Regions from separate parts of the Homo sapiens genome. Here all the other regions are reported to be linked to region 3. Evidence: microRNA targets listed by miRTarBase, many of them from high-throughput screens and not tested one by one. Region 3 holds a microRNA gene; each other region holds the end of a gene's coding sequence.

What was found. Region 3 holds the annotated microRNA hsa-miR-183-5p (UAUGGCACUGGUAGAAUUCACU, at 1,966-1,987, shown strand). A microRNA usually pairs through its seed, bases 2 to 8, with sites in the 3' UTR of a target mRNA and lowers its output. Matches are read on the target gene's strand: a 7mer-m8 pairs with bases 2 to 8, a 7mer-A1 pairs with bases 2 to 7 and ends in A, and an 8mer does both.
Region 1: miRTarBase lists ARFGAP2 as a target of hsa-miR-183-5p. Seed matches in the 3' UTR shown: 7mer-A1 at 1,668-1,674 and 7mer-m8 at 2,359-2,365.
Region 2: miRTarBase lists TWNK as a target of hsa-miR-183-5p. The part of its 3' UTR that is shown has no 7-base or 8-base seed match.
Region 4: miRTarBase lists SMAD4 as a target of hsa-miR-183-5p. Seed matches in the 3' UTR shown: 7mer-m8 at 1,441-1,447 and 7mer-A1 at 3,977-3,983.
Region 5: the mRNA of NIPBL is a reported target of hsa-miR-183-5p. The part of its 3' UTR that is shown has no 7-base or 8-base seed match.

The regions. Positions count from the first base shown.
Region 1 is chr11:47,162,570-47,166,863 of GRCh38, reverse strand. It overlaps ARFGAP2 (ARF GTPase activating protein 2), which reads left to right. Exons shown (of 16, transcript NM_032389.6): 13 at 1-104; 14 at 265-358; 15 at 478-596; 16 at 1,362-2,563. The coding sequence ends at 1,382. It also overlaps a transcript of CSTPP1 not described here. Among named protein-coding and RNA genes, the nearest start is that of ARFGAP2, 12 kb to the left of the region's middle.
Region 2 is chr10:100,992,097-100,996,390 of GRCh38, forward strand. It overlaps TWNK (twinkle mtDNA helicase), which reads left to right. Exons shown (of 5, transcript NM_021830.5): 5 at 1,094-2,307. The coding sequence ends at 1,414. Among named protein-coding and RNA genes, the nearest start is that of LZTS2, 5.6 kb to the right of the region's middle. RefSeq lists an enhancer at 3,931-4,294.
Region 3 is chr7:129,772,660-129,776,953 of GRCh38, reverse strand. It overlaps MIR183 (microRNA 183), which reads left to right and starts at 1,940; the gene lies at 1,940-2,049. It overlaps MIR96 (microRNA 96), which reads left to right and starts at 2,185; the gene lies at 2,185-2,262. RefSeq lists enhancers at 1-16, 2,860-3,721.
Region 4 is chr18:51,077,489-51,081,782 of GRCh38, forward strand. SMAD4 (SMAD family member 4) reads left to right here. Exons shown (of 12, transcript NM_005359.6): 12 at 768-4,294. The coding sequence ends at 979. Among named protein-coding and RNA genes, the nearest start is that of SMAD4, 49 kb to the left of the region's middle.
Region 5 is chr5:37,064,222-37,068,515 of GRCh38, reverse strand. NIPBL (NIPBL cohesin loading factor) reads right to left here. Exons shown (of 47, transcript NM_133433.4): 47 at 2,103-3,989. The coding sequence ends at 3,624. Among named protein-coding and RNA genes, the nearest start is that of CPLANE1-AS1, 180 kb to the left of the region's middle.

The sequences.
Region 1 (4,294 bases), not on the chromosome of region 3:
AGAGCCGGAGCTCAGGCCTCGAGTCTAGTGAGGCGCGTCAGAAATTCGCAGGAGCCAAAGCCATCTCATCTGACATGTTCTTTGGGCGGGAGGTGGATGCAGAGGTAAGTGGGGCTGTCTGCCCTGAGGTCCGAGGCAGCAGGCAGAAGCATGAGCTTTCTCCCTGCCGCTGCTTTGGGCTTTAGCACCAGGAGGGCCTGGCCTGTGTGAGTCCTTGGGTCATCAGCCCCAAGATCCCCAGGCCTGGCCTTTTCCTCACCACAGTATGAGGCCAGGTCTCGGCTGCAGCAGCTCTCAGGCAGCAGTGCCATCAGCTCTTCAGACCTCTTTGGGGACATGGATGGAGCTCACGGAGCAGGTAGGGCCCTGGTGGGGTGGCAGGCACCAAGTGAGGCCTGGGAGCAGGGCGGGAGGGCCCTGCTGTGACTGGGAAGGGCTTCTTGCTGGGCTCTGGGTCACCCTGCTCTTGTTTTACAGGAAGTGTATCTCTGGGGAACGTGCTGCCTACAGCGGACATTGCCCAGTTTAAGCAGGGTGTCAAGTCTGTGGCTGGGAAAATGGCTGTGCTGGCCAATGGTGTGATGAATTCCTTGCAGGTGAGGCTGAAGTGGGGCCTAATGAGGAGTGCTGGGAGGTTTGCCCTTCGCCACCACATAGAGACACTGCTACTGCTCAGCCCCTCTGAGCCTTAAGAGCATTTTCGGCCGGGTGTGGTGGCTCACGCCTGTAATCCCAGCACTGGGAGGCTGAGATGGGTGGATCACTTGAGGTCAGGAGTTTGAGACCAGCCTGACCAACATGGCAAAACCCCGTCTCTACTAAAAATACAAAATTAGCTGGGCATGATGGCGTGCACCTGTAATCCCGCTACTCGGGATGCTGAGGCAGGAGAATCGCTTGAACCTGGAGGTTGTAGTGAGCTGAGATCATGCCACTGCACTCCAGTCTGGGTGACAGGAGTGAAACTCTTGTCTCAAAAAAAAAACCACAAACGAAAAAGCAAGAGTCTAGAGAGAGGCATTTTCTTGGAGGGCAGCTTCCTTCCTTTCAGCTCCGTGCCAGGGCCGGGCCTCTCCAAGATGCCTCTGTGTCTGCCATGATCTTCCCTGGCCTTGTCACCTGTACCGCTCTTTCTCTTCTCTTCCCAGCTTCTGTGAGGCCAGGCAGGGCTTCCCTGTTGTCGGGTGCCCGAGTGGCCGCTGCCCCAGCTCTCACCGTGGACTCCTGCCTCACCGGGCTGTCCAGCCCCTGCCTCCCCAGTCTTGCTGTGGGGTGCTGGGGCAGGCAGTGTGTTTGCTGGGAAGCTGCTGCAGCTTAGAGCCTCTGACTTTTTTTTTTTTTTTCTCCCCCCTCGCCCCCAGGATCGCTACGGTTCCTACTGATCCGAGCTCTGTGACTCAGGCTTACGATGGTGACGGCAACAAGAACTCCACAGTTCCCAGGCTGGGGATGCTTTGCCTTGTGGAAGCTGGGGAGGATTTGTTACTTCGTATGTGTGGTGTGTGTGTGGGGTGGCCTTTGAGGCGCTCACTCCTGTGAGGGGAATGGTCAGTACCAGCCCTTGTCCTCTGCCTGTGGACTGAGCCCTTTATTCCCTCTCACACCACCCTCCGTGTGTTAGACTCTTGTCCTTCTGTCCTGCCCCCACAGCTGCTGCTCACTTATCCTGCCATACTGGGAAAGGGGGTTCCCCCACGATGGCTTATTCTGGGTCCAGACTTTCCCCAGGTAGGGAAAGCGGAAGGTAGAAGGCTTTTTTTGCTGGCTCTAGGGTTCTTCTAGTTCGAGGCCTTGGGTCCCCATCCTCTGGAACCAGGGGGAGGCCTGGAAGGAGTTCACTGTAGACCCGTCCCATGGGGAAAGAGGCTGCGGACTTGCTGCTGCTGCTGCTGCCAGTGGCCTCTTCTGGGTGCCAGGAGAGGGGAAGGACCTTTGTCTGGGCGTTACCAAGGGCTGGAAACTTTACCTGGTACCTAAAGGTTTCATTTGGGATCAGACCGGAGACCCTTGGGTTCTCCCGTCTCACCACCCCTTTCTACAGTAAGCACTTGGAAGATTGTTTCAGGGTGTCTCAGGGTCCCTCTGTACCATCTGCTGTGGAATGCAGGACCCTCTGTGACATTCTTTATCCCTTCTTCCCCGGGTTGGTGGCCATGGAGGGTCTTGTCTGCTGTGATTCGACTCTGGATGCTGTGAGCTTGATGCTGGCCAGGGAAGCAGAGGATGTGAGAGGCAGAGGCAGGCTCCTGGGGCTGAGCTCCTTCCTCTGCATCATTCTGGGCTTGGCCTGGACAGCACCCGCCAGTGAGAGCTGTGGGCCTCACCCTCTGGCAGCTGAGCCAAGCACTGTCATTCTTGGTGCCATCTTCCCCTGCCGCACCGGCAGTCTCAGCCCAGCCCCCACCTTTGGGTTGTAGGTTGGGCTCCCAAGCAACACAGACCACTCTTCCCCTTGCCCCTCCCCCAGAGGGACTTGACTTTCTTTCTGGACTGTTTGTATTGAAACAAAGTGGTGTCAAAATAAAGCCCCTGCAGGGCCTGGCTCCCTGTTGGTCTGAGTGAAGCAGTGTCCTCTGGATCCTGCCTCCCTGCCCAGTGCCGGCCCCTGGCCTCACTCTCTGGGCTCCCACCGGTAATGGTAGGGCGTCGGTACCGAAGCTGAGGACACTCTCTCCAGGGCCTCCTGCTTCTCTCTTCTCTGAAAGCCAAAGGCCCCTGGCTCCTTGGCTCTGTGCTGCCGTGAGGTCCGGTGCAGCTTCGACCTCACCACCCTGTGGCACGCAGAGGAAAGAGCTGGCATTAGTTGGCCCTTTAACTCGCTGGCTGAGGGCGAGCGAGCAACCTCAGCAGTCCTGCCCCTTGTCACGGCAGTAGGCTTGACTGGGGATGGGTTTCAGTGGAGTTTAAGAAATATTTAACGCCGGGTACAGTGGCTCATGGCTGTCATCCCAGCACTTTGGGAGGCTGAGGCGGGTGGATCACTTGAGGCTAGGAGTTTGAAACCAGCCTGGCCAACATGGTGAGACCCCATTTCTACTAAAAATACAAAATTAGCGGGGTGGGGGCGGTGTGGTGCATGCCTGTAATCCTAGCTACTCAGGAGGCTGAAGCAGAAGTCACTTGAACCCGGGAGGCAGAGGTTGCAGTGAGACTAGATCGCGCCACTGCACCCCAGCTTGGGTGATAAAGTGAGACCCTGTCTCAAAAAAGAAAAAATTACATATATATACATACACACACATACTCTTAGACGTTAATGGGACCCTTTAAATTTAGGGAAGAAAAGGTGTGTGTTTGTGTGTAAATCCTTAGCTTGGCCACCCCTTTCTCTTGGGGGCTTCTGAAACATCTCTGTGCCACCTTAGGAGTCCTCACGGTAGTTACAGACCACTGGTCTGGGAAGTGGATGATTAGAAAGGATGGGCAGAGGGAGCCAGGGGGCTGTAAGCCAGGGATTTGCAGAGTGTAGGTTTGGGACTCATTCAGCTTTGGGATCATCTGGAATTTCTGGACTCCATCCCAAGTTGATAGAGTTAGACTCTCTGGAGCTTGGTAATTTGCATCGTCAGTAGGCTTTCCTGTGATTCTGAGGACACCAGGATTTGAGAACCATGTCTCTTATGGGCTGTGCATCATTGTGGGCCTACAGAGCTCATCACGCAGCCTGAGCTTTTTTTTTTTTTTTTTTTTAAGATGGTCTCATTCTGTCAGTCACTCAGACGGGAGTGCAGTGGCACGATCATGGCTCACTGCAGCCTCAACCTCCTGGGTTCAAGTGATCTACCTCGGGTCTCCCAAGTAGCTGGGACTACAGGTGCAAGCTACCATGCCTGGCTAAGGTTATTTTGTAGAGATAGGGTCCTACTATGTTTCCCAGGGTGGTCCTGAACTCCTGGGCTCAAGCAGTTGGCCCACCTTGGCCTCCCAAAGTGCTGGGATTACAGGCAATGAGCCACTGCATCCTGGAGCAGCTTCGGGGCTGGAATGCCTAGTCTTGGCCTCAGCTCTGCAGGGGTTTGGGAGGCAGTTCCTGTAATGATCCGTTCTGGGTAGGGATGAGCCCAAGGAAATGTGTATGCCTAGTAGTGGTGACATCCACCTTCAGAGGAGGCAGTCCTGTTCTGCTTGGGCTTCTGGGTGGGTTTTGCTTTCTGGGGGACCCCGCCCCTTCAGCCCTCAATCCAAAGAAGTTGAAGACACTCGTCCTTACCTGCCTCCAGTCTTGGCTGGGATGTGTCTGCCCCAGGCTGTGTCTGTCTGTCTTTCACAGCTGCATCCCACTGTTCTAACCCCA
Region 2 (4,294 bases), not on the chromosome of region 3:
GGAGGCTGAGGTGGGAGGATTGCTTGAGCCTGGGAGGTTGAGACTGCAGTGAGCCGTGCTCACACCACTGCACTCCACTCCAACCTGGGCAGCAGAGTGAGACCCTATCTTTTTTTTTTTTTTTTTTTTTTTTTTGAGACGGAGTCTCGCTTTGTCACCCAGGCTGGAGTGCAGTGGCGCGATCTCGGCTCACTGCAAGCTCCACCTCCCAGGTTCAAGTGATTCTCCTGCCTCAGCCTCCCAAGTAGCTGGGACTACAGGCATGTGCCACCACACCCGCCTAATTTTTTGTATTTTTTTAGTAGATACGGAGTTTCACCGTGTTAGCCAGGATGGTCTCAATCTCCTGACCTCATGATCCGTCCGCCTCGGCCTCCCAAAGTGCTGGGATTACAGGCGTGAGCCACCGTGCCCAGCTGAGACCCTGTCTTTAAAAAAAAAAAAAAAAAAAAAAAAAGAATGGTCTCCTTCATGAGATGTGACATTTAGACTGAGACCTAAAAGAGAAGAAGCTGAGGTTGAGTGGGGTGGCCCGCTGTGGAGAAGGAGAGGGAACAGCACAGGCAGCGTCTGAAACAGTAGCAAGCTTGTCAGGGAACTGAAAGATTTGAGTGGCCCCAGCATCGTGGTCAGTAGTTCAAAGAGCTTTGGTCATGGGGGGAAGTACTTTTCCCTCTCCCATTCTTTCTCTTTTTTTTTTTCTTTTTTGAGACGGAGTCTCGCTCTGTTGCCCAGGCTGGAGTGCAGTGGCACAATCTTGGCTCACTGCAACCTCCGCCTCCCGGATTCAAGCGATTCTCCTGCCTCAGCCTCCCAAGAAGCTGGGACTATAGGTGCATGCCACCATGCCCAGCTAATTTTTTGTATTTTTAGTAGAGATGGGGTTTCACCGTGTTAGCCAGGATGGTCTTGATTTCCTGACATCGTGATCCACTCGACTCGGCCTCCCAAAGTTCTGGGATTACAGGCGTGAGCCATTGTACCCAGCCCCTCTCCCCATTCTTATCACTCCTCCCTGCCCTGTCAGCCCCCCTTTCTGCTTTGCTCATGTCCTCTTACTCCTGCTTTCCTCCTTCTGCCCCCTGTTCCCCAGGCAAGCCAGGAAGCAGACAATGTTCTGATCCTGCAGGACAGGAAGCTGGTAACCGGGCCAGGGAAACGGTATCTGCAGGTGTCCAAGAACCGCTTTGATGGAGATGTAGGTGTCTTCCCGCTTGAGTTCAACAAGAACTCCCTCACCTTCTCCATTCCACCAAAGAACAAGGCCCGGCTCAAGAAGATCAAGGATGACACTGGACCAGTGGCCAAAAAGCCCTCTTCTGGCAAAAAGGGGGCTACGACACAGAACTCTGAGATTTGCTCAGGCCAGGCCCCCACTCCCGACCAGCCAGACACCTCCAAGCGTTCAAAGTGAAGGCCGTGCAGAGCTGGTCACTGAAATGAGCCTGATAGGATAGGCTGGAGCATAAAACTCTGCAAGGGCTCCTCTATCCTGTGGTCCTGAGCTGTGTGCCCTTCTCAGTCTGAGGGGCCTAACCTAGAGCAGGTTTCCATAGTGAGAAAATTCAATGTAGCAGACTACTGAGAAACTACTGTGTTGCTCAGGCTTTGTTTGAGGTCCTGTATATACAGCACTGAAAAGAGAGATAAAGTCCCTGCCTGCATGCATTCTGGCGGAAGAGACAAGCAAGCAATGAACAAATTAGCAGAAAACCTAGTTTTAGTGAAAAATGCTGTAAAGAAAATAGAAATGCGATAGAGTGCTGGCAGGCTAGTGTAGATAAGTGGTCTGAAAAGGTGTCTCTGAGCCGAGGGCATGTGAGCTGGGGCCTAAACAACTAGAAGGAGAGAGCCACGTGAACATCCGGCGAAGGGGACCCAGGCAGAGAGAAAAGGAAATCCAAGCCCTGAGGTAGGAATGAGCAGGTCAGATTCAAGGCAGTGAGGTCAGGCCGCATGAACCTGGAGGGGAATCGGGGACTTCATGCGAAACTCCAGCCTAGGCTTTCAAAGTCAAAGGGTGATACAGTGGGTACCAAGCTCCTCTGCTCCCCACTTTGTAGAGCCTAGCATGAGGTGGCATGTACTAGAATTGGATCCTAGGTGCTTAGCCCTGCAATATCAGGGCCTCACTGGTGGGAGCTGCCTCGGGCTGGGTTGCTTGGTCATAGAGCCATAGAAGGAAGCTGTCAGCCCGGAGTGCCTGCCACCTAGACACTGATGCCATTGTGTGCTGCCTCAAGACTGCTGGAGTCAGGACATTTTATAGAGCCTTTTCCAGTTTTACTAAAAAATTTTTCCATTGCCTTTGTTTCTGTGCTTTTTCTTATTCATCCACCAGGTGTCTCCCCAGTCCGTAGCTGAATTTCCCTTTCGGGATTGGGAATGGACGGGTCCCCTCCCACTGCTTGCAGCCTTTGAGCGGTGGGCTTCCAAGGAAGCAGGGACATTAAAGGGCCTTCACACCCCACCTTCCATTTACATCTCTTCTTGGCCTAGGGAAGACAAGATGATCTGTCCTCATACCTAACTTCCCTGAGGATCTCGAGTGATTCCTGGCACAGGTACTCATCACTGGGCCACATGAGCCCAGTGCCCTGCCTGACTGGCCATTCCTCTGTGATGTGAGCCACTCACCTCTCAAGTGGACTTAGACTCAACATATTCTGTCCACCCCCATCCATCTCCCTCCTGTACCCTCTCCGTGTTTCTCATATGCTAATGCGTGCCAGAACTCCTGGGGACTTGTGAAAAATGCAGAAACTAGGCCCCATTCTCCCCCCATCCTCCACCACGTACATTTCTCATTCTGGATTTGAGGACGGGTACAGTAATCCTCATTTTTAACAAGCCGTGGAGGAGACTGTAAAATAGGTGACCCAGAGGGACTGTCAGAAGTATTCCTAAATGATGACACCTTCTCATCTCTCGTCCTCTGATATCCCAAAGTCCCAGTTTCCCTTTGGATTTGCCTGAAAGAGTCGTGAGAATGCAATATGTTCTGAGGGGGCTGGGGAGAATCCTTTTGTAAGGGTTGGGGGAAGGTTTCCTGCTCCGTTTGGAAGCAGGGCTGCCTTGTCAGGCTCTTCCTTTCAACCTATGAAGGGGCTTCTGGGGCCGATGGAGGGGTCTGTGGTCTCTGGAGTGTGAGAACTCTGGTCACAAATGTCTCCTGAAACATCCGGAGCAAGGCTGCTGGAAAGCTGCTCTCTGTGAGGAAGAACCTGGGGGGGTGGGGAGAGCTCCTCCAGGGCCTCCCTTCTTGGGGGTCTCTCCCAGACTGGCTGGAGCCAGGCCTCCCTAATCCCGCAGTAATCATTCCCAGCCGTTGGCTGGTCTAGGCCTCATCCAGAGTCTGTAACGCTGAACGGCAGCCATGCCTTCCAGAGGCACAATACCATATCAGTCATACCTGTAAGGATGTGGGTTCCACATTCCTGTCTCCCTAGAATGCCTGGTGGGTTCTCAGGAGATCTTTTAGGGGTTTCCAGTAGGGGACCTTTGTGAGGTCTCTGTGAACTGGGGATAGAGGGATAGATACAGACTTGGCTGTTTGTCTTGCCCCACCCTTCTAGCAGACACCCCCACACAGCACAAACCAGAATGATGAGGGGGAGGGGAAGCTAATACTCCCCCCAGCCCTACCCGCTGCACAAACACGTTCTATTCCATACCTGCCTTAAATACCCCATATCATGATTCCACCCAGTCTGTTCAGATCCCTGGATTCTAGAAAGCAGTGGGGGGTCCCTAGGGCCTGTGCGGATTCCCTGGGATAGGACTGGTCTGTCTACACCCAACTGGATGTTAAGAATCTCCCTGACTCACAGGTTCGGTGGATTGGGAGGAAAAAAAAAAAATTTCCCTGAGATCTCAGGAAAGGCCTGGCTAAGCCAGGTCCAGTTGGATCTACAGCCTTGTCCTCTAATTGATAATGTATGTCACACTTGGCCATGAGGGGACAGCTTTGGTCCTCTGGCAGCTTCCTCTCTGCTGTGGATGGGTTTAAGAAGAAACAACTCGGCCGGGTGCGGTGGCTTACGCCTGTAATCCCAGCACTTTTGGAGGCCGAGGCGGGTGGATCACGAGGTCAGGAGTTTGAGACCAGCCTGGCCAATATGGTGAAACCCCGTCTCTACTAAAAATACAAAAATTAGCCGGGCGTGGTGGTGCGCGCCTCTAGTCCCAGCTGCTCTGGAGGCTGAGGCAGGAGAATCGCTTGAACCTGGGAAGCGGAAGTTGCAATGAGCCAAGATCGTGCCGCTGCATTCTGGGCGACAGAGCGAGACTCCGT
Region 3 (4,294 bases):
GTTGTTGCCCAGGCTGGAGTGCAGTGGTGCGATCTCTGCTCACTGCAACCTCCACCTCCCGGGTTCAAGCGATTCTCCTGCCTCAGCTTCGGGCGCCTGCTACCACGCCTGGCTAATTTTTGTATTTTTAGTAGAGACGGGGGTTTCACCATGCTAACCAGGCTGGTCTCGAGCTTCTAACCTCAGGCGATCCTCCCGTCTCCCAAAGTGCGCTGGGATTACAGGTGTGAGCCACTGCGCCCAGCCAGAAGAAAGAAGAATTCTGCATTCTGTTTAATTATCCCAGGGTGAGGCTTCTTGGGAAAGATTTCTCAAAATAGATCTTCCCACCCCCACCCCCACCCCATGCTGAGCTGTCAGGGTGCTATTAAAATGCAGATTTCCAGGCAGGCTCAAGAATCTACATTTCAACAGGCTCCTTGGGTGATGCTTATGGCTACACCCTAAGCAATGTTCATAACTACCCACCCCATACTCTTTGCTAACACCCTGCCATCACCCCTTCCCCTCCCCACCCAAGGCTGGGAAGTCTGGTCTCTCTTCCTTAGTAGAGTTCAGAAAATTGTAGTAAGGGAAACTGAGGCAGAAGGCTGAGGAGTGACTTCCTGAGATCACCACCTCATCAAGCTGGATTGTCCTCTGGGGAGATAGACCAGCTAGAAGGGCAGAGCCCTGTAGTGGGGGTGTGTGGGAGCAGGACAAAGAGTCCTCGGGAGCAGGAAGGGTGGAGCATTAAGCAGTGTCTAGGGGAGAGCGGATGGCTTTGGCCAAGGTACCCAGATGGAGCTCTGAGGTCCACGGGAGGTAGTTCCTGGGGGTAACATCGCCAAGAGGTCTGCATAGTTTCTGGGCCAGGGCACCTGCTCTGACCCTTCCAGGATATTTTCTAGCCACCCTGCCTTCTGGGCCACCGCTGACCTGGAGTAGGCTGAGACTCTAGTGGCCACTCTGCGGAGGCCCCAGCTTGCCTGCCCTGGGTGCCAGCTCCCCAGAGACCCTCCCTCCCACCCTCTCCCTTCTTCCCGTCCTTCCCCAGGGCCTGTGACACCAGAGGCAGGGCCTCCACAGCAACTTCTCTCTAGGCAGCTGCTCTGGCAACCACTGATGCAACCTTCCCAGCCCCTCCCTCGCTCCTGAGCCTCCGCTTTCCTCCGCAGTCACTCCAGAGCCAGCCAGGAGCCACTCCCTTGCTAGAGTGCATCCGTGCCTCCGGCTCCCTCCAAGCCACCTGGGTGGCTGCAGGACTTCTCTTCTGCCCTCCTTTCCTGGCCTTTTCCTGCCTTGATCCTAGGCCGGCAGCAGAGATGCCCAGCCTGGGCGGTTCACAGTCTGGCCCAATCTGGTCTGGTTTGGGATGGGAGTGGGGGTGAGCAGCAGATTCGGTTTGTTCCTGGGGCTCTGTTTCTGCCACAGGGCAGGCTGGGGGGTGGAGGATAATGGAGACCAAAGTGCCTAGGAGCCTGGGCTGCTGGTGTCTGGGCTCAGAGGCTACGAGAGGCATCTTGGATGTCCCACTGGTCACTGCCCCTGTGGCAGGTTGGGTAGAGAGGAGGCTCTGGCCAGCTGCTTGCCTCTCCGAGCCAGAGTTACTCTGGCAAGGAGATGGATGGTCCTGACCCACTCCCTCCCCAGCCTGGAGGCGCAGTCTGGGTGATGTGGAGGGATGTGGGCCTTCAGGTGGAGATAGGAGACACCTTGGTGTGGTCTTCTCCTCTGCAAGGCCAGAAGGTCAGCTCCTCTCCCGCACTGTCCCTGTCTCCTTGAAGGTCATCTTGGGCTGATGGGGCATGTGGATCTTGTGAAGAGGTGGGATGGGGTGGGGGGTAGAGACCGTAGCAGCCGCTGCTGAGGGCCTGCTGGGGGGCCCCCAAGGGAGTGGGCAGGCTAGGAGCAGGGAACGGGCATCGTGGGCCGCTGGTCTCTCCGCAGGGTCGGCAGGCCGCAGAGTGTGACTCCTGTTCTGTGTATGGCACTGGTAGAATTCACTGTGAACAGTCTCAGTCAGTGAATTACCGAAGGGCCATAAACAGAGCAGAGACAGATCCACGAGGGCCTCCGGAGCACCTTACCCACTTCTGCCTTGAGTGCTCCTAGACGTCGGAAACAGGCTGCTTCCAAGGGTGCAGGGATGCAAGGCCCCTCGTCCAGTGTGTCCCCAGAGAGCCCGCACCAGTGCCATCTGCTTGGCCGATTTTGGCACTAGCACATTTTTGCTTGTGTCTCTCCGCTCTGAGCAATCATGTGCAGTGCCAATATGGGAAAAGCAGGACCCGCAGCTGCGTCCGCCTCCCCTGCATCCTTGTGTCAGGGCCCCAGCCTGCTCCTCCTCAAGGCCTCCTCACCGCCTCCCCAGCCCATCTGGCTCAGCTGCTGTGTGAGGGCCCAGCGCTGGTGGGCAGCCAGATCGCCTTACACTGCCTGGGGCCACGGTAGAGCTGGGAGCCCAGCAATCTGAGCTGGGCCAGCAGATGGGGCCGCCCAGGGCAGAGGTGGGGGAGTCTGAAACCATCTGTAGGGCCATCCTGAATGGTGCCGTGGGTTGGAAAGGCCCAGCCAGGCTCCCAGCACACGCTTGGGGTGAGACCTTGGCTGGCAGCACAGGGCCTGGTCTTTTCTGCTGCAGGTTGTGAAGGGGGCAGCTCCAGGCAGGTGGGCTGCCCTTGAGGTCAGCCTGGGTGTTTCCAGGGGGGCTACCGTCTCTGGAGCTGTAGCCTGCTGTGGAGTGGGTCATCTCCGAACAGCTCCAAGAGGAGGATACTTAGTGGGGCTCGGAGTTGGAGGGCATTTTCAGGCCTGCCCCTAGAAGGTTCTGGAGCAGAGGCCAATGTTCCCCTTCACACACCACACACTGGTAATGTAGCTTCCTGGGTCCCTGGATCTGGGCTATGACTAACTGGCCTATGCTCTCCATCTGGGTGTCAGGTGACATTACATATATAATCCCAACAGTTCCCACCTCAGCCCTGTGGGGCTTGTAATTTTTTAAAATAGTTATCTCATAGATGGGGAACCTGAGGCTTTGAGAGGAAAGGCTTGGCTGAAGAGGTTGGTGAGTGGTAGAGCTGGGTCACTGTGGCTCTTCCGCCACCAGCCACACCTTCCATGGAGGCACCCAGGGCCTGGAGGTGTCTCAGCTCTGAATCTACAGGCCTGGGCTCCCAAGGATGCCCCAGATGGCAGAGACTGAGGCTGGGAGGCCTGGACCTAGTCTGTCAAAGCTGGGGAGAGCCTGGCCAGCCAGGCTGGACCCATGTGAAATCTGGTGGTCAGCAATCAAGCAGGAGACCAGTGGCCGACTTGGGACCAGCTGGGAGCTATCATGCCCCAGGTCACTGGGCCAGCCCCTGATGGGGCTGCTTCTCCCCAGGGAGCCTCAGGCAAGGGTTGGTGGACTTAGCCCAGATCAGTGGGAGTCATTTTAGGTGTCTGAGCCAGGGAGTGCCCGGGTGGGGGATGTGTGTGGTTGAAGCTGGCAGCTGGAGGATGACGGGTCCAGTTGACTGCACAGCAGGAACATGGTGACCAGTGCTGCCTGCCTGGGTGCCCTGGGGACTGCCTTGGGTGGGTTGGGCCTTTTTTTTCTTGTCAGTTAGCTATCACCAAACCGCGAGGAGCCCCCAATAAATTCCCTCTGGGGTGTGGTGCCCGTGTTTCTCTACAGAAGCTCTCCAAGCCCCTGCAGAAAAAAGGAGGGGCTTGTTTATTTCAGGATAGAAGGGGACTTCTGCCCTGGTGAGGTGTCCCTGTAGCTAGGTCTCTCTTCTGATGGCCCCAGCTCTCCCTCTGCCCCTCGGAACCTGGCTGGCCTGTGCCGCACCCTGTCTCTGTGCTCCAGTCCTCCGCCCCGGGTGCTTCCTTAGGGCGTCCTGCTGCAGGTCCCATGGGATAGGAAAGAAGGGATTTCCCGGCCTGAGTGAGAATGAGCCCTGGAGGTGGGGTGGGCACAGAGACCCAGCAAGGGGGGGTGGAAGGCCCCTGGCAGTGACCGGTTCTAGAGCTTTTCCCTGGAGCCTCTGGAGTGTCTGGCCAGGGTTCTGCTCCTTCCTGCCTAGCGGGGAAGGCCGGATGACAGAAGCTGCCCTCAGCCCCTGGGTGGTCTGCAGCTGGGCTCCACCTCCTCACACCTGCCCAGGTGGGCGCCTTTGCTGAGCCCCGAGTGCAGGCACTGGTGTGGGGGCGTGCCTCCACCAGGCTTCAGGCCCGGCTGCTCTGGGGCCCTGCTCCAGCGCTCCAGGGGAGGACCTCAGGCCAAAGCTAGTTTCTAGATCTCCTAATTTACCTAGTTCCGGGCCAG
Region 4 (4,294 bases), not on the chromosome of region 3:
CTCCCATTAGTTTCATTGTAATATTGATGAATGCAGATGGACTATATGACTGTATGTTCTGACTGGAAAATTAGATGCAGTCTCCATTGTGACTTATGTTCAGGAGTTTACAATTTAGAGGTAGATTAGGCATATTCATTGAGAGAATTTGATTTTTTAAAATTTGGGGTGATACCATTAATTTGCTGGTTTCAGTGTTATAAACATGCTTTTACTGAAGAATCCAGAACTATTATTAAGTTTCATATTCTCATCAGTTGCCACCACTGAGTAATAGTGTATTACTCTGTTACACTTTGAAATTGAGAGAGAGACTTCATCTCGGTCATCTAAGAGGTCTTAGTGGAACTAAGAATATTAACTGCTTCATTATTAGTTATGTCTTATTCTGAACTAGGCTGTTTAGACAGTAAGGTTTTTAGAAGCAACCTGTGGACACGCACTACCTCTTAAAAACAAGTTGTTTCTTATCCCTTCACCTCCACTTCTAAAGAAAAAAATAGGTGAGGTGTTGGTGGATTGTGGTAATTTACTTTATAATTGGTTGTAGCTAGAAGACACATGTGAAATGTAAAGTTCCTTAACCAAAAGTGTGCAGCTTGTTGATAAAGTTTAGATCTACTGTTACTTCTTGGCACTTTAGCAGAGAAGTTATATGCTGAGGAGAATGAAATACAGAAAGCTGGTCACTTGATTAATTTAGAATGTAGGGAGGATGGGAAGAGATCACCCTGTCCCTCTGATGTCTTCCAAATCTTTTCTGTTAGGTCTGTCAGCTGCTGCTGGAATTGGTGTTGATGACCTTCGTCGCTTATGCATACTCAGGATGAGTTTTGTGAAAGGCTGGGGACCGGATTACCCAAGACAGAGCATCAAAGAAACACCTTGCTGGATTGAAATTCACTTACACCGGGCCCTCCAGCTCCTAGACGAAGTACTTCATACCATGCCGATTGCAGACCCACAACCTTTAGACTGAGGTCTTTTACCGTTGGGGCCCTTAACCTTATCAGGATGGTGGACTACAAAATACAATCCTGTTTATAATCTGAAGATATATTTCACTTTTGTTCTGCTTTATCTTTTCATAAAGGGTTGAAAATGTGTTTGCTGCCTTGCTCCTAGCAGACAGAAACTGGATTAAAACAATTTTTTTTTTCCTCTTCAGAACTTGTCAGGCATGGCTCAGAGCTTGAAGATTAGGAGAAACACATTCTTATTAATTCTTCACCTGTTATGTATGAAGGAATCATTCCAGTGCTAGAAAATTTAGCCCTTTAAAACGTCTTAGAGCCTTTTATCTGCAGAACATCGATATGTATATCATTCTACAGAATAATCCAGTATTGCTGATTTTAAAGGCAGAGAAGTTCTCAAAGTTAATTCACCTATGTTATTTTGTGTACAAGTTGTTATTGTTGAACATACTTCAAAAATAATGTGCCATGTGGGTGAGTTAATTTTACCAAGAGTAACTTTACTCTGTGTTTAAAAAGTAAGTTAATAATGTATTGTAATCTTTCATCCAAAATATTTTTTGCAAGTTATATTAGTGAAGATGGTTTCAATTCAGATTGTCTTGCAACTTCAGTTTTATTTTTGCCAAGGCAAAAAACTCTTAATCTGTGTGTATATTGAGAATCCCTTAAAATTACCAGACAAAAAAATTTAAAATTACGTTTGTTATTCCTAGTGGATGACTGTTGATGAAGTATACTTTTCCCCTGTTAAACAGTAGTTGTATTCTTCTGTATTTCTAGGCACAAGGTTGGTTGCTAAGAAGCCTATAAGAGGAATTTCTTTTCCTTCATTCATAGGGAAAGGTTTTGTATTTTTTAAAACACTAAAAGCAGCGTCACTCTACCTAATGTCTCACTGTTCTGCAAAGGTGGCAATGCTTAAACTAAATAATGAATAAACTGAATATTTTGGAAACTGCTAAATTCTATGTTAAATACTGTGCAGAATAATGGAAACATTACAGTTCATAATAGGTAGTTTGGATATTTTTGTACTTGATTTGATGTGACTTTTTTTGGTATAATGTTTAAATCATGTATGTTATGATATTGTTTAAAATTCAGTTTTTGTATCTTGGGGCAAGACTGCAAACTTTTTTATATCTTTTGGTTATTCTAAGCCCTTTGCCATCAATGATCATATCAATTGGCAGTGACTTTGTATAGAGAATTTAAGTAGAAAAGTTGCAGATGTATTGACTGTACCACAGACACAATATGTATGCTTTTTACCTAGCTGGTAGCATAAATAAAACTGAATCTCAACATACAAAGTTGAATTCTAGGTTTGATTTTTAAGATTTTTTTTTTCTTTTGCACTTTTGAGTCCAATCTCAGTGATGAGGTACCTTCTACTAAATGACAGGCAACAGCCAGTTCTATTGGGCAGCTTTGTTTTTTTCCCTCACACTCTACCGGGACTTCCCCATGGACATTGTGTATCATGTGTAGAGTTGGTTTTTTTTTTTTTTAATTTTTATTTTACTATAGCAGAAATAGACCTGATTATCTACAAGATGATAAATAGATTGTCTACAGGATAAATAGTATGAAATAAAATCAAGGATTATCTTTCAGATGTGTTTACTTTTGCCTGGAGAACTTTTAGCTATAGAAACACTTGTGTGATGATAGTCCTCCTTATATCACCTGGAATGAACACAGCTTCTACTGCCTTGCTCAGAAGGTCTTTTAAATAGACCATCCTAGAAACCACTGAGTTTGCTTATTTCTGTGATTTAAACATAGATCTTGATCCAAGCTACATGACTTTTGTCTTTAAATAACTTATCTACCACCTCATTTGTACTCTTGATTACTTACAAATTCTTTCAGTAAACACCTAATTTTCTTCTGTAAAAGTTTGGTGATTTAAGTTTTATTGGCAGTTTTATAAAAAGACATCTTCTCTAGAAATTGCTAACTTTAGGTCCATTTTACTGTGAATGAGGAATAGGAGTGAGTTTTAGAATAACAGATTTTTAAAAATCCAGATGATTTGATTAAAACCTTAATCATACATTGACATAATTCATTGCTTCTTTTTTTTGAGATATGGAGTCTTGCTGTGTTGCCCAGGCAGGAGTGCAGTGGTATGATCTCAGCTCACTGCAACCTCTGCCTCCCGGGTTCAACTGATTCTCCTGCCTCAGCCTCCCTGGTAGCTAGGATTACAGGTGCCCGCCACCATGCCTGGCTAACTTTTGTAGTTTTAGTAGAGACGGGGTTTTGCCTGTTGGCCAGGCTGGTCTTGAACTCCTGACCTCAAGTGATCCATCCACCTTGGCCTCCCAAAGTGCTGGGATTACGGGCGTGAGCCACTGTCCCTGGCCTCATTGTTCCCTTTTCTACTTTAAGGAAAGTTTTCATGTTTAATCATCTGGGGAAAGTATGTGAAAAATATTTGTTAAGAAGTATCTCTTTGGAGCCAAGCCACCTGTCTTGGTTTCTTTCTACTAAGAGCCATAAAGTATAGAAATACTTCTAGTTGTTAAGTGCTTATATTTGTACCTAGATTTAGTCACACGCTTTTGAGAAAACATCTAGTATGTTATGATCAGCTATTCCTGAGAGCTTGGTTGTTAATCTATATTTCTATTTCTTAGTGGTAGTCATCTTTGATGAATAAGACTAAAGATTCTCACAGGTTTAAAATTTTATGTCTACTTTAAGGGTAAAATTATGAGGTTATGGTTCTGGGTGGGTTTTCTCTAGCTAATTCATATCTCAAAGAGTCTCAAAATGTTGAATTTCAGTGCAAGCTGAATGAGAGATGAGCCATGTACACCCACCGTAAGACCTCATTCCATGTTTGTCCAGTGCCTTTCAGTGCATTATCAAAGGGAATCCTTCATGGTGTTGCCTTTATTTTCCGGGGAGTAGATCGTGGGATATAGTCTATCTCATTTTTAATAGTTTACCGCCCCTGGTATACAAAGATAATGACAATAAATCACTGCCATATAACCTTGCTTTTTCCAGAAACATGGCTGTTTTGTATTGCTGTAACCACTAAATAGGTTGCCTATACCATTCCTCCTGTGAACAGTGCAGATTTACAGGTTGCATGGTCTGGCTTAAGGAGAGCCATACTTGAGACATGTGAGTAAACTGAACTCATATTAGCTGTGCTGCATTTCAGACTTAAAATCCATTTTTGTGGGGCAGGGTGTGGTGTGTAAAGGGGGGTGTTTGTAATACAAGTTGAAGGCAAAATAAAATGTCCTGTCTCCCAGATGATATACATCTTATTATTTTTAAAGTTTATTGCTAAT
Region 5 (4,294 bases), not on the chromosome of region 3:
TTGTTTCTCGGCTAGCACCAATAGGACAGACTGTATTTCAGAAAAAAATTCAAGTGAAAAATTAGTAAAATCATTTTGTAACAAATGCTGCCTATGACAAACATTAGCTATAGGACTAAACAAACTTTGGTTTTAAAATGAGCAAGGCAAACAGCAAAAGGTTCAAACACGTAGGATTTTTATGGGGCAAAAATTACTATCAAGTGTTTCAAATTACATTATTTCAAGTGGGTAATCTGATGAGTTTTATATTTGCAAAAGTAATCTTATTCCAATTATCCATATCCACAGTTCTGAAGATGCAGACCACCTGGACACAGGTAGTGACAAGGATGAATTTTTCTGTGCAACTAAAAGTGGTGGGTAGGGGAGGGAGAACCACATACTTCCCTGGTTAATTTATTTCTAAATAAAAATACGGTAAATTTGCTTGCTGATCATGAAATCTGTATTGAACAAACATCAGTTTGACTTACCTGTTTTCATGAGACAGACTATGGTCATAAAAATCACCTGTGTGCTTCAGTTACCTGAATAATTCAAATACTCAACCTATCAACAGAGTAAGCTATATATTTCTCTCAAAAAACTCAGCATTTCTTCCATTAGAGATTACTACATCTAGAAAATTCTAGAGATCACTGAATTTTCTGCCATGTGTATTTTGGTATGAACATATTTTTAAAACTAGCCATTCTTTCTTAATAAACAATTTCAATAAGGCTAAAATTTCATATTAATGTACTTAAAAAGTGAAGAGATACTTGAAAATTTTTATATCAAATATAACCTATCTTTTCAAGTCAATATAACAAGATTAATCTATGGTAATTAATCAACACACTATAGAGTAAGACTGAACTTTCTAAATACTTAATAGAACTTTGTGAATCCCCAATATACTTAAAGTTTGATTTTGTATATTTGACTGCCAAAGCTTTAATAGTGTTAAGACCTAACAATTCATCTTGAAGAATCTTCAACTTTCTGAAAATTTTGGTTTGTATATTTAAGAGTTAAGGCTTATATTAACATTTGGCTTCTATTAACAGATAAAATAGGAGCTTAGAATATATACAAAATTTCAAAACTGATTCCTAAAATTCCTAAATTTCTTTTTCTTTTTTGAGATGGAGTTTCGCTCTTGTTGCCCAGGCTGGAGTGCTATGGCGTGATCTCGGCTCACCGCAACCTCCGCCTCCTGGGTTCAAGCGATTCTCCTGCCTCAGCCTCTCGAGTAGCTGGGATTACAGGTATGCACCACCACGCCCGGCTAATTTTGTATTTTTAGTAGAGACGGGGTTTCCCCATGTTGGTCAGGCTGGTCTTGAACTCCTGACTTCAGGTGATCTGCCCGCCTCGGCCTCCCAAAGTGCTGGGATTACAGGTGTGAGCCACCGTGCCCTGCCTAAAATTCCTAAATTTCTAATGAGTGGCAAACACAGAATTCCATCTATGGCCAACTGAGGCAACAGAAGACTTACTACTGTGTACCTACTTCCTAAAAATTACTCTGAACAGGATTCCCAAGTATGTATACTACAAGGATCCTTTAGGAACTGGTTTACTTCAATAAGGATCATCTCTCTTAATGTCTGATGTTCAATTAGCTTAGAGTAGTGAGACACAATTACTTCAATTCCAGATTTAAATCCCTATCATGACATTAGTAAATTACCAAATCCTTCTAAGCCTGCTATCCTCATCTACAAAATGAGGATAAAATATATAACGAGAGTTTTTGTGAGAATTAAATGACAGCATGCATCACTGTCACGTAAATAGAATTCAAAACTGGCTTTTTACTCACATTTACATTCTTAGTACTCTCTCTGGGCTGGATTTTATTCTTATATTTTCTCTAACCAGTACCCTTTTTGATATATTATTCTCAGAAGTGACCTCAAATCCTTTGTTGATATACATAAACTCCAAGAAGAACCAACCAACCAACCAACCAACCCAATCTAGTTTTGTTCCAGAGTTCACAGTATAAGGAAAAGAGAAACATGTAAGTAAGGGGAACAAAACGAAGAGTGAGAAAACATTTCCGTGAAGAAAGCATTTGAAAGAATTCCACATAGGAAATAGATCCTGAAAAGTTATTTTCATAGTGGTTTAATAGGTGTCACAAAAAGGTATTTTGTGGCAATGTCATTCTTCCTCAAAAATTGAATACCTTCATTTATTTGCCAATTTCATAAAACAGCATTCTGGAGGTCAATTTTTTCAAAGTGATTTAAAAATAAGTAAAACATTTTTAAAAAGAATTAAACTTGAAACAGACCTCATCCACTGTAAATTTTAGGCATTACTATTCCTGAGTGTCAACTATACATATCAAATGATTAAACACCTCCCTCCTGATTTAGTCAAGATATCTGCAGTAAGTAATGTGTAAATGACAACTGTTCCCAAGACTTATGATAAAAGCTTTTAGCATAGATTAGAAAATGAATAAACATCTCAACAAGTAAAATTACTCTTTTCAGCATTAAAAAATAATTTGTGAAAAATGTAGTGAGTGTAATTATGAAGTGTCATATTCATCTCAACTCTAGTTCTAAAATAACCGGACATCATTTTAACCAAGAGAAATGCTGGTTTTCCAAATAACAGGTTACCTTTACCCGAGGTTTAAAGAATAAATATCAGCATCATGACATCACTAGAAAGAAATTGAAGCATACAAGGAATAAACTATAGTTTCTTTTTATATCAAAATGTACTCTTGAAAATGTGTTTGGCACAGTGCTAAATCATATATAGTTAATACTAAATATTGCAGGATACAATAAAACCCTGGAGTTAATTGTTTACACCCTCTTATGGGAATGAAAATAATAGATACCAATTATTCAGAAGTCAGCCTATACAAACTGTATAAACAATATTTTATGTTTTGCTTTGAAAACCAGTGATATAATAAATTTTACATAAAAGACTGTAAAATAATATAAATGGATTTAAACAGATTTTTACAATAAGAAATTCAAATGGAAACAGACAAGTAACAAAGAGAAGTAAAAAAATTTATTGCAGTATTCGCTCCACCAGATTACCTGGGGATCCCTTTTCTTGTATTGTTTTCAGGGTGACCTAATACATCAAAATCTACATTTACAAAAACTCCTTCTGCAGATAGGTCATAGATACTGCATGCTTTTTTTTTTTTCAACAGAATAAATTATATATCCAGGAGATTCTGCCATTTTACAGCCTGGAAAAAACAATGCTTCCCTGGAAACTGGGCTAAGCTAAAGAAAGCCATCCGCTGCTAGGTTAAACTCCAAGAACACTTTATTAAGAACATTAACAGACTAATTTCCAACATTCACTTGTTTATTTTTTTTAAACAGAAAGTTTTTTTTCCAAGATATAAACAATTTTTGTTAAACTATAATACAGTGGGAGTAAAAATGAACTGAGAATCTGTTTCTGCTGCACAACAGCGAAGGGAGCTCCCACAAAAATGTTTGCCCAACATTTCCTTCTTTTGTTCCTGCATCCCAGGTTCCACTTACTCTTCATAAAACTGATTTTTTTTTGCCAGAATGTTGGTATTTCAAGTTTTTCTGCCTTTTAAAAAAATTCCTGTAAATTTGGCTGCATGTACAAATTCATTAGCTGGAAGTCCCATCCTTGGCGGCATACAGGGATCGTAAAGTCTGAACAACTTTATTAGTCAGCTTATTAGCACTCGTTAGAGCAATTTTTTTGTAAATAATGTCTGACTCTTTAATAGTGTCTACCCAAGGCACCAGTTTGCGGCCATCACGGCGCTTAGCCTCAGTCCAGGAGCCACTGTAGGAGCCTGCCATCCACTGAACACTGAAGCCACTGCTGGTTTTCTGCACTACTCTTGCAATTTGTGGTCGATCTTTGTACTTTGGACAGCAAATAGCGATGACATCCATGACGTCAACACTTTCATTCATCTGTGCTGCCAACTCCGTAGAGTCTGAATTTCGTTTTGACCTTCTCAATGACTAAAACATTGGGAGGGGGGAAAAAAGACCAAGTGTTACACAAAAGAATTTTAGTGAAATTATTGTTTTTATTGCTTTTAATCCCTTGACGCCGGGAGTTGGGATTTCCCGGCACACTTCCATTGCCGGCAATGAGACGCACCGTGACCGCCAGCGCCAAGGGGTTAACATATACTTGTAAAACCATATAACTCTTAATTTGTACCCGTGTCTTTACTCTTATTGATATATAAAATTATATATACATATGAACCATATAGCTACATAAAACTTAGCAACAATAAAAATAACACACATTAATACAA